Linked DNA regions of Homo sapiens. The protein of the gene in region 1 interacts with the protein of each later gene in a pairwise test. Each region holds a gene or a part of one and is shown on either strand. Other genes may lie near its edges. The genes, in order: MYPOP, CIB4 and PRDM14.

Region 1 (3,652 bases):
CCCAGCTTCCTGGGCTCAGCCTGAACCTCTCGCCTGGGCTCCAGACTCCTGTCTCCAGCTGTGTACTCTCAATTGTCGAAAAACGCCCCAAACTCACTTGCTCGGAGCTGGGCTTCTGATCCTCCCCCACCCTGCTCCTTCCTCAGCCACCCCCATCTCAGCTGATGCAGCTCCATCCTCCCAGCTGCTCAGGTTAAACACCTTCACTGTTTTGTTTACTAAGACACCATCCACATACAGAAGCTATCGTCTCTGCCTTCAAATTAAATACATACAACTTCTTTCTTCCTGGTCCCCCACCCTGGCCCAACCACCAGTATCTCCCACCAGGACCACTGCAGTCATCGCCTCCCTGAGGGCTCTCTGCTTCCACCCCTGTCCCTGACAGTATCTTTTTCCACCAGCAGCCTGAGGGGTCCAACCAAAATACAAGTCAGTTAGGCTACGGGAAACAAGCTAGTCACAAAGAACCACAGATCACAGGGGCCATTTATATGAAATGTCCAAAATAGGCAAATTTGGCCGCATGTGGTGGCTCATGCCTGTAATCCCAGCACTTTGGGAGGCCGAGGCGGGTGGATCACCTGAGGTCAGGACTTCAAGACCAGCCTGGTCAACATGGTGAAACCCCATCTCTACTAAAAATACAAAAAATTAGCCGGGCATGGTGGCATATGCCTGTAATCCCAGCTACTGGGGAGGCTGAGACAGGAGAATCGCTTGAACCCGGGAGGCGGAGGTTGCAGTGAGCCATGATCGTGCCATTGCACTCCAGCCTGGGCAACAGAGCGAGACTCTGTCTCAAAAATAAAAATAGGCCGGGTGTGGTGGCTCACGCCTGTAATCCCAGCACTTTGGGATCTGAGGTGGGCAAATCACCTGATGTTGGGAGTTTGAGACCAGCCTGACCAACATGGAGAAATCCTGTCTCTACGAAAAATACAAAGTTAGCTGGGCATGGTGGTGCATGCCTGTAATCCCAGCTACTCAGGAGGCTGAGGCAGGAGAATCGCTTGAACCCGGGAGGCAGAAGTTGCAGTGAGCTGAGATTGCATCATTGCACTCCAGCCTGGGCAACAAGAGCGAAACTCCGTCTCAAAAAAAAAAAAAAAAAAAAGGCAAATCTATAGAAACAGAAAGTAGATGAGTGGCTGCCGGGGGCTGGGGGAAGACAGGGAAGATGGGAGATTGGGGATGGCTAAGAGGTGCAGGGTTTCTTTCTGGAGTGATGAAAATGTTCTAAAATTGATCGTGGTGATGGTTGCATAACTCTGAATATACTAAAAGCCATTGAATTGTACGCTGTATTTTATTTTACTTTTTTTTTTTTTTTTTGAGATGGGAGTCTCACTCTGTCGCCCAGGCTGGAGTGCAGTGGCGCGATCTCAGCTCACTGCAAGCTCCGCCTCCTGGGTTCACGCCATTCTCCTGCCTCAGCCTCCTGAGTAGCTGGGACTACAGGCGCCCGCCACCACGCCCGGCTAATTTTTTGTATTTTTAGTAGAGACGGGGTTTCACTGTGTTAGCCAGGATGGTCTCGATCTCCTGACCTCGTGATCTGCCCACCTCAGCCTCCCAAAGTGCTGGGATTACAGGCATGAGCCACCGCGCCTGATCCTGTACACTTTATTTTTAATTTTTATTTATTTTTTATTTTTTGAGACGGAGTCTCGCTCTGTCGCCCAGGCTGGAGTGCAGTGGTGTGATCTCGGCTCACTGCAAGCTCTGTCTCCTGGGTTCACACCATTCTCCTGCCTCAGCCTCCCGAGCAGCTGGGACTACAGGTGCCCTCCACCACGCCCGGCTAATTTTTTTGTATTTTTAGTAGAGACGGGGTTTCACCATGTTAGCCAGGATGGTCTCAATCTCCTGACCTTGTGATCCACCTGCCTTGGCCTCCCAAAGTGCTAGGATTATAGGCGTGAGCCACCGTGCCTGGCCTTAATTTTCATCTTTTTTTGAGACACAGTCTTGCTCTCTCGCTCAGGCTGGAGTGCAAAGGTGAGATCTCGGCTCACTGCATCCTTAATCTCCCCAGCTTAAGCGATCCTCCCATCTCAGCCTCCTGAGCTTCTGGGACCACAGAGGTGCGACCCCACACCAGGATAATTTTATTTTTTTGTAGAGATGAGGTCTCACTATGTTCCTCAGGCTGGTTTCAAACTCCTGGTCTCAAGCAAATCGTACACTTTGAGGTGATTGTATAGTGTGGAAATTATATCGCCATATATATATACATTTTTTTCTTTTTTCTTTTTTTTTTTTGAGATGGAGTCTCATTCAGCTGCCCAGGCTGGAGCTCAGTGGTGCGATCTCGGCTCACTGCAACCTCTGCCTCCAGGGTTCAAGAAATTCTCCACCCTCAGCCTCCTGAGTAGCTGGGACTATAGGTGCACACCACCATGCCCAGCTAATTTTTGTATTTTTAGTAGAGACGGGGTTTCACCATGTTGGCCAGATGGTCTCGATCTCTTGACCTCGTGATCCACCCACCTCAGCCTCCCAAAGTGCTGGGATTACAGGTGTAAGCACTGCGCCCGGCCTTATATTGCAATATAATTGTTTAAAAAAACACAAGTCAGATATTGTTTCTATGCTCAAACCGTCCTGTGGCTCTCACCTCACTCAGGGTAAAAGCAAAGTCCTTGAGGCCTCTAGGGCCCTGCACGATCTTCCCCCATTGCCTTCCTGACCTCAGCTCCCATCCCTCCCTCTTGGGTTACCTGGCTGTAGCCACGGTGGCCTCCTTGCTGATCCTCAAACACATCAGGCCTACTTCTTTTCTTTTTTTTGAGACGGACTCTCATTCTGTCGCCCAGGCTGGAGTGCAGTGGTGCAATCTCGGCTCACTACAACCTCTGCCTCCTGGGCTCAAGCGATTCTCTCACCTCAGCCTCCTGAGTAGCTATAGCTGGGACTACAGGTGTGCACCACCACGCTTGGCTAATTTTTGTTTTGTTTTTGTAGAGACAGGGTTTTGCCATGTTGCTCAGGCTGGCCCCATCTCCTTCTTTTTTTCTCCCCTAACCCTACCTGATTCCTCTCCCAGCACTTATCTCCACCTGGCACGGTATGGCTCTGTGTCTGCTGTCTGTCTCCTCCTCCTGATGTCAGCTCCATCAGGCAGGGCTTTGTATTGCTCCCTTCTGTTTACCCGGCGCCTAGAACAATGTCCAGCACAACATTTTTTCTTTAACGAGAAAAGAACTGGGGCTTCCAGAGACTCAGCGCTGATTGGGTCCCAGGCCCCAGAGTGCCCAGCACCCACAGGAGAAAGTCCAGCCTCTTCCCACGGCTATGGGGCCTCAGCACTTGCCCCCAACTCCGCCTGTCTTCCCACATGTCGTTCCCTGGGCCAGGCTCACACTGCCTCTTGCATCAGCTTGGATGTTTTTTTGGATGTTCCTTCCTCGGGGAAGCTGGCCTCCTGCTCCTTGGCCAAATCAGATCACCCTGCTCTTCTCTCAAAAACAGCCAGCCAAAGAAAGAGAGAAGATAGAGAAAAAAAAAATAACAAAAACAAAAAACCAACCATCCAGGCCGGGTGCGGTGGCTCAGCCGGTAATCCCAGCACTTTGAGAGGCCCAGGCAGGCGGATCACCTGAGGTCAGGAGTTTGAGACCAGCCTGGCCAACATGGTGAAATCCTGTCT
Region 2 (3,652 bases), on another chromosome or scaffold:
CCCCACCTCCCAGCAAGCCTCTCCTTGCTCATTTTGGGAAGCAAGGCTTCTGCTTTGTCCAGAATCGGAAAGACACAGAAGGAATCTTTAGTCCTCGCTCTAGGTCTCCAAAAGCTGGTCTGAGCACTAGGGATGAGCCAGTGACAAAGTTCTTGACAACAGGTGACAAACGGAGAACAATACGGACAAAAGGGGGTGTGTCTGAAAACACTCGAGGCTTCTTACATTTTTGTTTTAAAATTAATATTTCTTTAAAATAAAATGATGGTCACTGACAGTGGATGACATATTTTTTTTAATGTCCTTACTTGGCAAAACTGAAAGTTGGCATCTCTAGTCCTGCCTCAAAAAAAGATTTTGTTTTTGAATAAAAAGTCTGGGACCAGGCTGGGAAGTTTAGTGGGAGGGTGGGGGGCGGGGCAGGCAGGGATGGTTAATGGGTACACACAAAAAAAATAGAAAAAATGAATAAGACCTACTATTGGATAGCACAACAAGGTATTATGGTGTATATATATATATATTTTTTTTATATAGGCATTATAGTCAATAATAATTGTATATTTGGAAATAACTTAGAGGGTAATTGGATTATTTGTAACTCAAAGGATAAATGCTTGAGGGGATGGATGCCCCATTCTCCACGATGTGCTTATTTCGCATTGCATCACAACATCTCATGTACCCCATAAATATATACACCTACTATGTACCCACAAATTTTTTTGTAAGTCTGGGACATACTGTGGTAGATGGCACACCACAAAAGAGAGTAAGACCAAGTCCTAGGGCCAGAACCACAGACTCAGAGAGTGAGGAGGGCACCAGATCATCGGTCCAATCTCTTTTTGAGACCGAAGGATGCTAGAACACCCGTCAGTGACAGAAAGCGCATTCCCTCTGTGCATAGCGCTGGCAGTTAGGGAGTGTTTACTTGTATTGTGGAGAAACCTGCATGTGCTTGTACCTGGACCTATGTCTGGGACCACCTAGAGCGAGGCCTTTCCTAAGGACAGCCTTTTTTTTTTTTTTTTTTTTGAGATGGAGTTTCGCCCTTGTTGCCCAGGCTGGAGTGCAATGGCGCAATCTCAGCTCACCACAACCTCTGCCTTCTGGGTTCAAGCGATTCTCCTGCCTCCGCCTCCCAGATAGCTGGGATTACAGGCATGTGCCACCATGCCCGGCTAATTTTGTATTTTTAGTAGAGACGGGGTTTTTCCATGTTAATCAGGCTGGTCTCGAACTCCCAACCTCAGGTGATCCACCCGCTTCGGCCTCCCAAAGTGCTGGGATTACAGGCGTGAGCCACTGTGCCCACCTGTGGAAAACAGGCTCCACCCCCCCACTGCTTCCCACCCGGACTTGCACAGACAGTTTTGTTTGCTGTGCAGAAGCTCTTTAGTTTAATTAGATCCCATTTGTCAATTTTTGCTTTTGTTGCAATTGCTTTTGGCAATTTCATCATGAAATCTCTGCCCATGCATATGCCCTAAACGGCATTGACTACATTTTCTTCTAGGGTTTTTATGGTTTGGGGTTTTACATTTAAATCTTTAATCTATCTTGAGTTAATTTTTGTATAAGGTATAAGGAAGGCATCTGGTTTCACATTTTCTGCATATGGCTAGCCAGTTCTCCCAGCATCATTTATTGAATAGGGAATTCTTTCCCCATTGCTCATTTTTGTTGTGTGTCAAAGATCAGATGGTTGTAGGTGTGTGGCCTTATTTCTGGGTTCTTTATTCTGTTCCATTGGTCTACATGTCTGTTTGTGTACCTTTACCATGCTGTTTTGGTTACTGTAGCCTTATAGTATAGTTAGCTGAAGTCTATTTGCCCCTTTGCTTCTCCCCACTCCAGTCATTCCTCTTGTGATGTCACTTGCCGAAGATCATGTGGCTAGCAAGTGAATCCAAACCTAGTTCTTTCATGCCTGGCCTGGTGCCCTATCCCTAGTTCTCTAGGTGGGGCAATGGCTCAGGGTCTTCAGTTCAAAAGACGGTTCTGGCTGTTAGAGACCAGATGGAAAAGCAAGAAAGAAACCCAAGTAGAAAAAAAAAGCAACATACAAAAAAAAAAAAAAAAATCAATGGGATCCAAATCAACATGTATATATCTGCATAGAAAAAAAGTCTGGAAGGAAATAAGCCAAAATGATTGTGGCAGTCATCCCTTGAGGTAGACTAATATATCATTTTAATCTTTTTTTTGTTTTTCTGTGTTCTCTAGTTTTTCTACAATGAGCTGGCTCTTATTTGTATAATAGAATAAAATCATGACCATTTAAGATTAAATCAGAAAAGTAAAATTAAAATCATGTGGCCAAGACTCCACTTCCCAGTTGCTCTCCAGTGAGCAAGTTCGGGGGGAAGAGGGGGTCTGAGACTCCAGAAAAGGTGAAGCATCCCAGCCCCGGCCTGTGCACCTAGCCTATCTGCTGGGAAGAGCAGGCCTCACCCCACCTGCCCCATCCCAGGTCTTCTCAAGCCTTGCTGCACCCCACCCCTAACCCCAACAGGCTCCTCACCCATGACATGGAAGAGAGGAACAGGGGAAGCATAAAAGATAGTGCAGAGGACAATGGCTCACCTCCACCGGGTCCCTTACCCAGCACAAGGTGTTCATATTGGTTTATAGATGGGGGGATATACATGCAAGGAGTGTGATAGCTCCAGGCCCAGACTCAGCCCTCCTGATCTTAGTCCAGTGCTTACTCCTTTGGGGGCCAAACAGAGACTCCAGGCCCTACTGAGACAAGGCTATTGCTGGAGAAGGATGTGTTGAGGCCATGGGTCACCAACACCCTCTATGCCACCCCTCCAGTTCGGCTCCCCTTGGGCCCTCTGTGGCACCTGGAAGACCCAGGCACATGGTCACTGCTCAGCCAAGCCTTGATTAGAATAGGAGGCTCTGCCTGGGCCAGAGTTCAAGCTGACTCCCCCAGAGCAGGAACTAGTCCAGACTCTTCCATCATGTGGCCCCTTGGAAGTTGTTTCCCTCTTGGGACCTCAGTTTCCCCATTAATAAAATCAGGGTGAGGAGCATTTGACAGTGACTAGACTGGGTGGTCTCTAAGTTTCTTTCCAGTCGTAGCATTCAGAGAGTCTGGGACTGACCAGTGACCCTGCACCCACCCAGGGGAGGGCAGAAGCTTCCCATCAGCCCTGCCTGTCTGGCTGGCCCTGACCCCGGGTCCCTTAGTGGATGGCCTGGGTTTGAGAGAAGTCCCACCCACATGTGGTGGAGCCCATGCACGTGTACACATGGGGTGTGACTGTATGAGGGTGAGGCCAGGAAGTGGGGGGTGCCAGGAAGACCGCCTCCCCATTTTGTTTCTGTCACAGTCACAGTCTCCGATTCACTCACCTTTCTGAGGTTTCTATTTCTTTCCCCTCCAGAATCCCAGCTTCTCCCAGCTACCCCCACCCACCTACCCACCCCTCACCCTTTCTCATTATTTTGTCTTCTCCACTCCTGCCTCTATTTCAAGACCCAGCTTTGTGCATTTTCCTCTGTCTCTGTCTGCCCTACAGATAGGCCTGTCACTTAGGAGGGGCCGTGCAGCCGTGGCTTGAATGACATGTCTGTGCCCCCTCCATGTCCCTTCCTCAGGAGCCAGCCTCCTCCTCCCTGGTATCCCCAGGCCTCTTCC
Region 3 (3,652 bases), on another chromosome or scaffold:
GCTGCTCTTCCTCCCTGGGGTCAAACAATGAGATCTCTGTGGTGCATTCATAGTCAAAGCCACTTTATCCTCTGGGATCCAGAGTGTCCTCTGCAGGGATGCTTTTGTAGGTGGCCCCTGTTCTCTCGCCTTCCCCCAACACATAGACACCCCTGGACGTGGGACCTGCTTTGCTAGAGTCTAGCTGCACCCTCTCTAACTTCTCTCCTCCTCCCTCCTCCATTGATAAAAACAGATTTACCTCTCAGTCTTGTCTGCCATTCAGTGATAGTATCACTCACATTGGTAAGACTCGGTAAGTGTTAGAATTAAATTAGTCATCACGGTAACCCTGTGCATTAGGGAAGTCAAGATGCTTTCAACCTTACTCTATACATAAAGATTCTAGCTCTGGAATCTGCCACAAGTTTTGAGTAATGAAGTATAAACTAAGAAGGTCCCTTGAATTGTGTAGAATAGAACAGCACTGTGAGCTGCGGGTGTCCTGGTGACTGCTCTGAGCTTGTAACTCAGGCTGATCTTAAAGGCACAAAGAGAAATAGGTCGGCCTCAGTGCCTCAGTGTATTAACCTTGTAACAAGTGCCAGGCAGGAATGTGTTCAAGAGCTGCAGGGTTGCACTGCCCTTAAATGGGGCTGGTGGAATGGTCTCTTCAACAGTACATATCAAGGAACAAAAGGGAAAGAGAGCCTATAGGTTAAGATATTTAAGAGACATAGCAACCATATACAACATGTAGACTTTGTTTGAAGCCTAATTTGAATGGACTGACCAGAAAGTAATTAAACAAATATATATGTGTGTATATAAATGTGCATATATAAGTACATATATGTTTCTATAAAAGAATAAGAGTTAATCGTTTAGGTATGACAATGTGACAATGACATTATGGTTATGTTTTTTTTTTTTTTTCGAGACAAAGTGTTGCTCTGTTGCCCAGGCTGGAGTGCAGTGGCTCAATCACTGCTCATTGCAGCCTCAACTAACTTCCCCAGGCTCAGGTGATCCTCCCATCTCGGCCTCTGGGACTAAAGGCGTGTGCTATCATGCCCAGATAATTTTTATTATTTTTTTGTAGAGATGGGGTCTTACTATGTTGCCCAGGCTGGTCTCAAACTCCTGGGCTCAAGCGATCTGTCCACTTCAGCTTCCCAGAGTGTTGGGATTATAGGCGTGAGCCACTGCACCTGGCACAATTATGCTTTTTTTTTTTTTTTTGAGATGGAGTTTTGCTGTTGTTGCCCAGGCTGGAGTGCAGTGGTGCAATCTTGGCTCACTGCAACCTGCGCCTCCCAGGTTCAAGTGATTCTCCTGCCTCAGCCTCCCAAGTAGCTGGGATTACAGGCAGGCACCACCACGCCTGGCTAATTTTGTATTTTTAGTACAGACGGGATTTCACCATGTTGGCCAGGCTGGTTTTGAACCCCTGACCTCAGGTGATCCACCTGCCTCAGCTTCCCAAAGTGCTGGGATTATAGGCGTGAGCCACTTTGCCTGGTCACAATTATGCTTTTTAAAAATATGTCATCTTCTAAAGATTACGGTTAGATGTTTTTGAGTCAAAGGATGAATTAGTATTAAAATAATCTACTATGGCGAGCGGTGATATAAATGAAAACAAAATTAGTTACGAGTTGGTCAAAGCTTGGTGTTTGGCACATGAGGGTTTATTACACTATTATTTTCACTTTGGTATGTTTACATTTTTCTGTAATAAAAAGGTTTTTAAAAATTCTCTTGGCGGCCGGGCATGGTGGCTCATGCCTGTAATCCCAGCACTTTGGGAGGCCGAGGCAGGTGGATCACAAGATCAAGAGATCAAGACTGTCCTGGCCAAGATGGTGAAACCCCACCTCTACTAAAAATACAAAAATTAGCTGGGCGTGGTGGTGTGTGCCTGTAGTCCCAGCTACTTGGGAGGCTGAGGCAGGAGAATCACTTGAACCCGGGAGGTGGAGGTTGCAGTGAGCCGAGATCACACCCCTGCACTCCAGCCTGGGTGACAGAGCAAGACTCCATCTCAAAAAAAAAAAAAGAAAAGAAAAGAAAATTCTCTTGACCAGGCACAGTGGCTCACGCATGTAATCCTAGCACTTTGGGAGGCCAAGAGGGGCTGATCACCTGAGGTCAGGAGTTCTAGACCAGCCTGGCCAACATGATGAAACCCTGTTTCTACTAAAAATACAAAAATTAGCCAGGCGTGGTAGTGGGCACCTGTAATCCCAGCTACTTGGGAGGCTGAGGCAGGAGAATCGCTTGAACCTGGGAGGCAGAGGTTGCAGTGAGCCAAGATCGTGCCACTGCACTACAGACTGGGCAATACAGCAAGATTCTGTCTCAAAAAAAGAAAATTCCTCTTGAAGTAGCCAAAGAATTCTTGGCTAAAAATAAATAAATAAATAAATATCCTCTTGAAGGAACTAGGGAGGGAAGTAACTGAAGAGACATTGTGTTTGCTGTGTTTGACAGAGTCTGCAGAAGGCTACAGATGTGAAAGATGTGGGAAGGTATTTACCTACAAATATTACAGAGATAAGCACCTCAAGTACACCCCCTGTGTGGACAAGGGCGATAGGAAATTTCCCTGTTCTCTCTGCAAACGATCCTTTGAGAAGCGGGACCGGCTTCGGATCCACATTCTTCATGTTCATGAGAAGCACCGGCCTCACAAGGTGAGTATTAGGAGGACACATGACCCACCATCACGTTCTCTCTCCCTTCCCAAGCTCCTGAACACGGGGAGTTGCCTTGTAGGTGCTAGCTGCAGGGCTGTGATGCCTGACGGACACCCTCTCTGAAGGAGGAGAGGATAGTATTACGGAACAGGCAGGCGTGAATAGGCACAGCGATGCACATGTGTTAGGATGCAGGTACCCACAGAGGGAGGAACATGGAGGAAGGAGTGTCCACGGCCACCTGGACACGTGGATTATGAAAGATGCACAGAGGTGGCCTTGAGCCAAGTATAGAAGGACAAATGGGGTGTCTGATTTATACTGGTGGCAGGGTTAGTTGGGCAGGAAAGAGTCGAGCTGTTCCAGACAGGAGAGAGCCTGGCATGTGCTCCTGGGGAACTGCGCCTTGTTCCAAATCTGTGCAGGTGTGTTGACAGGTATAGGTAAGAAGGAAGTGAAGGCACGGTCCTTCCAAGGAGCGGAAGGCCTCTACAGTGGGCCGAGGATTTTGTAAGACAGAAAATCAGTAATGACATTACGGAGCCATTCCAAATACCTGGATGCTCTGCTAGGCTTGCTGCAAAAAAGTACAATATTCCCTTGGGCTTAATTAAAAGGAGGACGAGGCTTGGGCACAGATGTATTCTTGCTTGACTGTTGGCCTTGTCGGAACTACCTCAGGCAGCTACGACCTTGAGCCCATTTTCCTGTTTTGAAAACTGAGAATAAAATCATCATAAAATTGTCCTAATTTCTCCCTTCCTTCCTAAGCTTCTGGAAAAGTCATGTTTAATCACTATATTATATACTCCTATAAAATTTGAATACATTTACAGTTATCATGCATTTGTGTAATTCTAAAAGGATTTAAAAATATCAGGACGGTGAAGGTATTTCTCGCTTATTAGACTGGCAAAAGTGAAAACTATCCAGTATTCTGATAGTGAAAAGTTTGAGACTGCATGTTCATCAAC

The links.
Region 2: the proteins of MYPOP (region 1) and CIB4 interact in binary tests that used the Homo sapiens proteins (3 or more experiments, as listed by UniProt).
Region 3: the proteins of MYPOP (region 1) and PRDM14 interact in binary tests that used the Homo sapiens proteins (3 or more experiments, as listed by UniProt).

Annotation. Positions count from the first base shown.
Region 1 is NC_000019.10:45,892,472-45,896,123, forward strand, and holds part of MYPOP (myb-related transcription factor, partner of profilin), read right to left. Parts: intron 3,162-3,652; coding exon of another isoform or gene 3,151-3,161; exon of another isoform or gene 1,998-3,150; intron 1-1,997. UniProt on the Homo sapiens protein: Transcriptional repressor; DNA-binding protein that specifically recognizes the core sequence 5'-YAAC[GT]G-3'. Dimerization with PFN1 reduces its DNA-binding capacity.
Region 2 is NC_000002.12:26,624,332-26,627,983, forward strand, and holds part of CIB4 (calcium and integrin-binding family member 4), read right to left. Parts: intron 1-3,652.
Region 3 is NC_000008.11:70,057,663-70,061,314, reverse strand, and holds part of PRDM14 (PR domain zinc finger protein 14), read left to right. Parts: intron 1-2,472; coding exon 2,473-2,675; intron 2,676-3,652. UniProt on the Homo sapiens protein: Transcription factor that has both positive and negative roles on transcription. Required for the maintenance of embryonic stem cell identity and the reacquisition of pluripotency in somatic cells.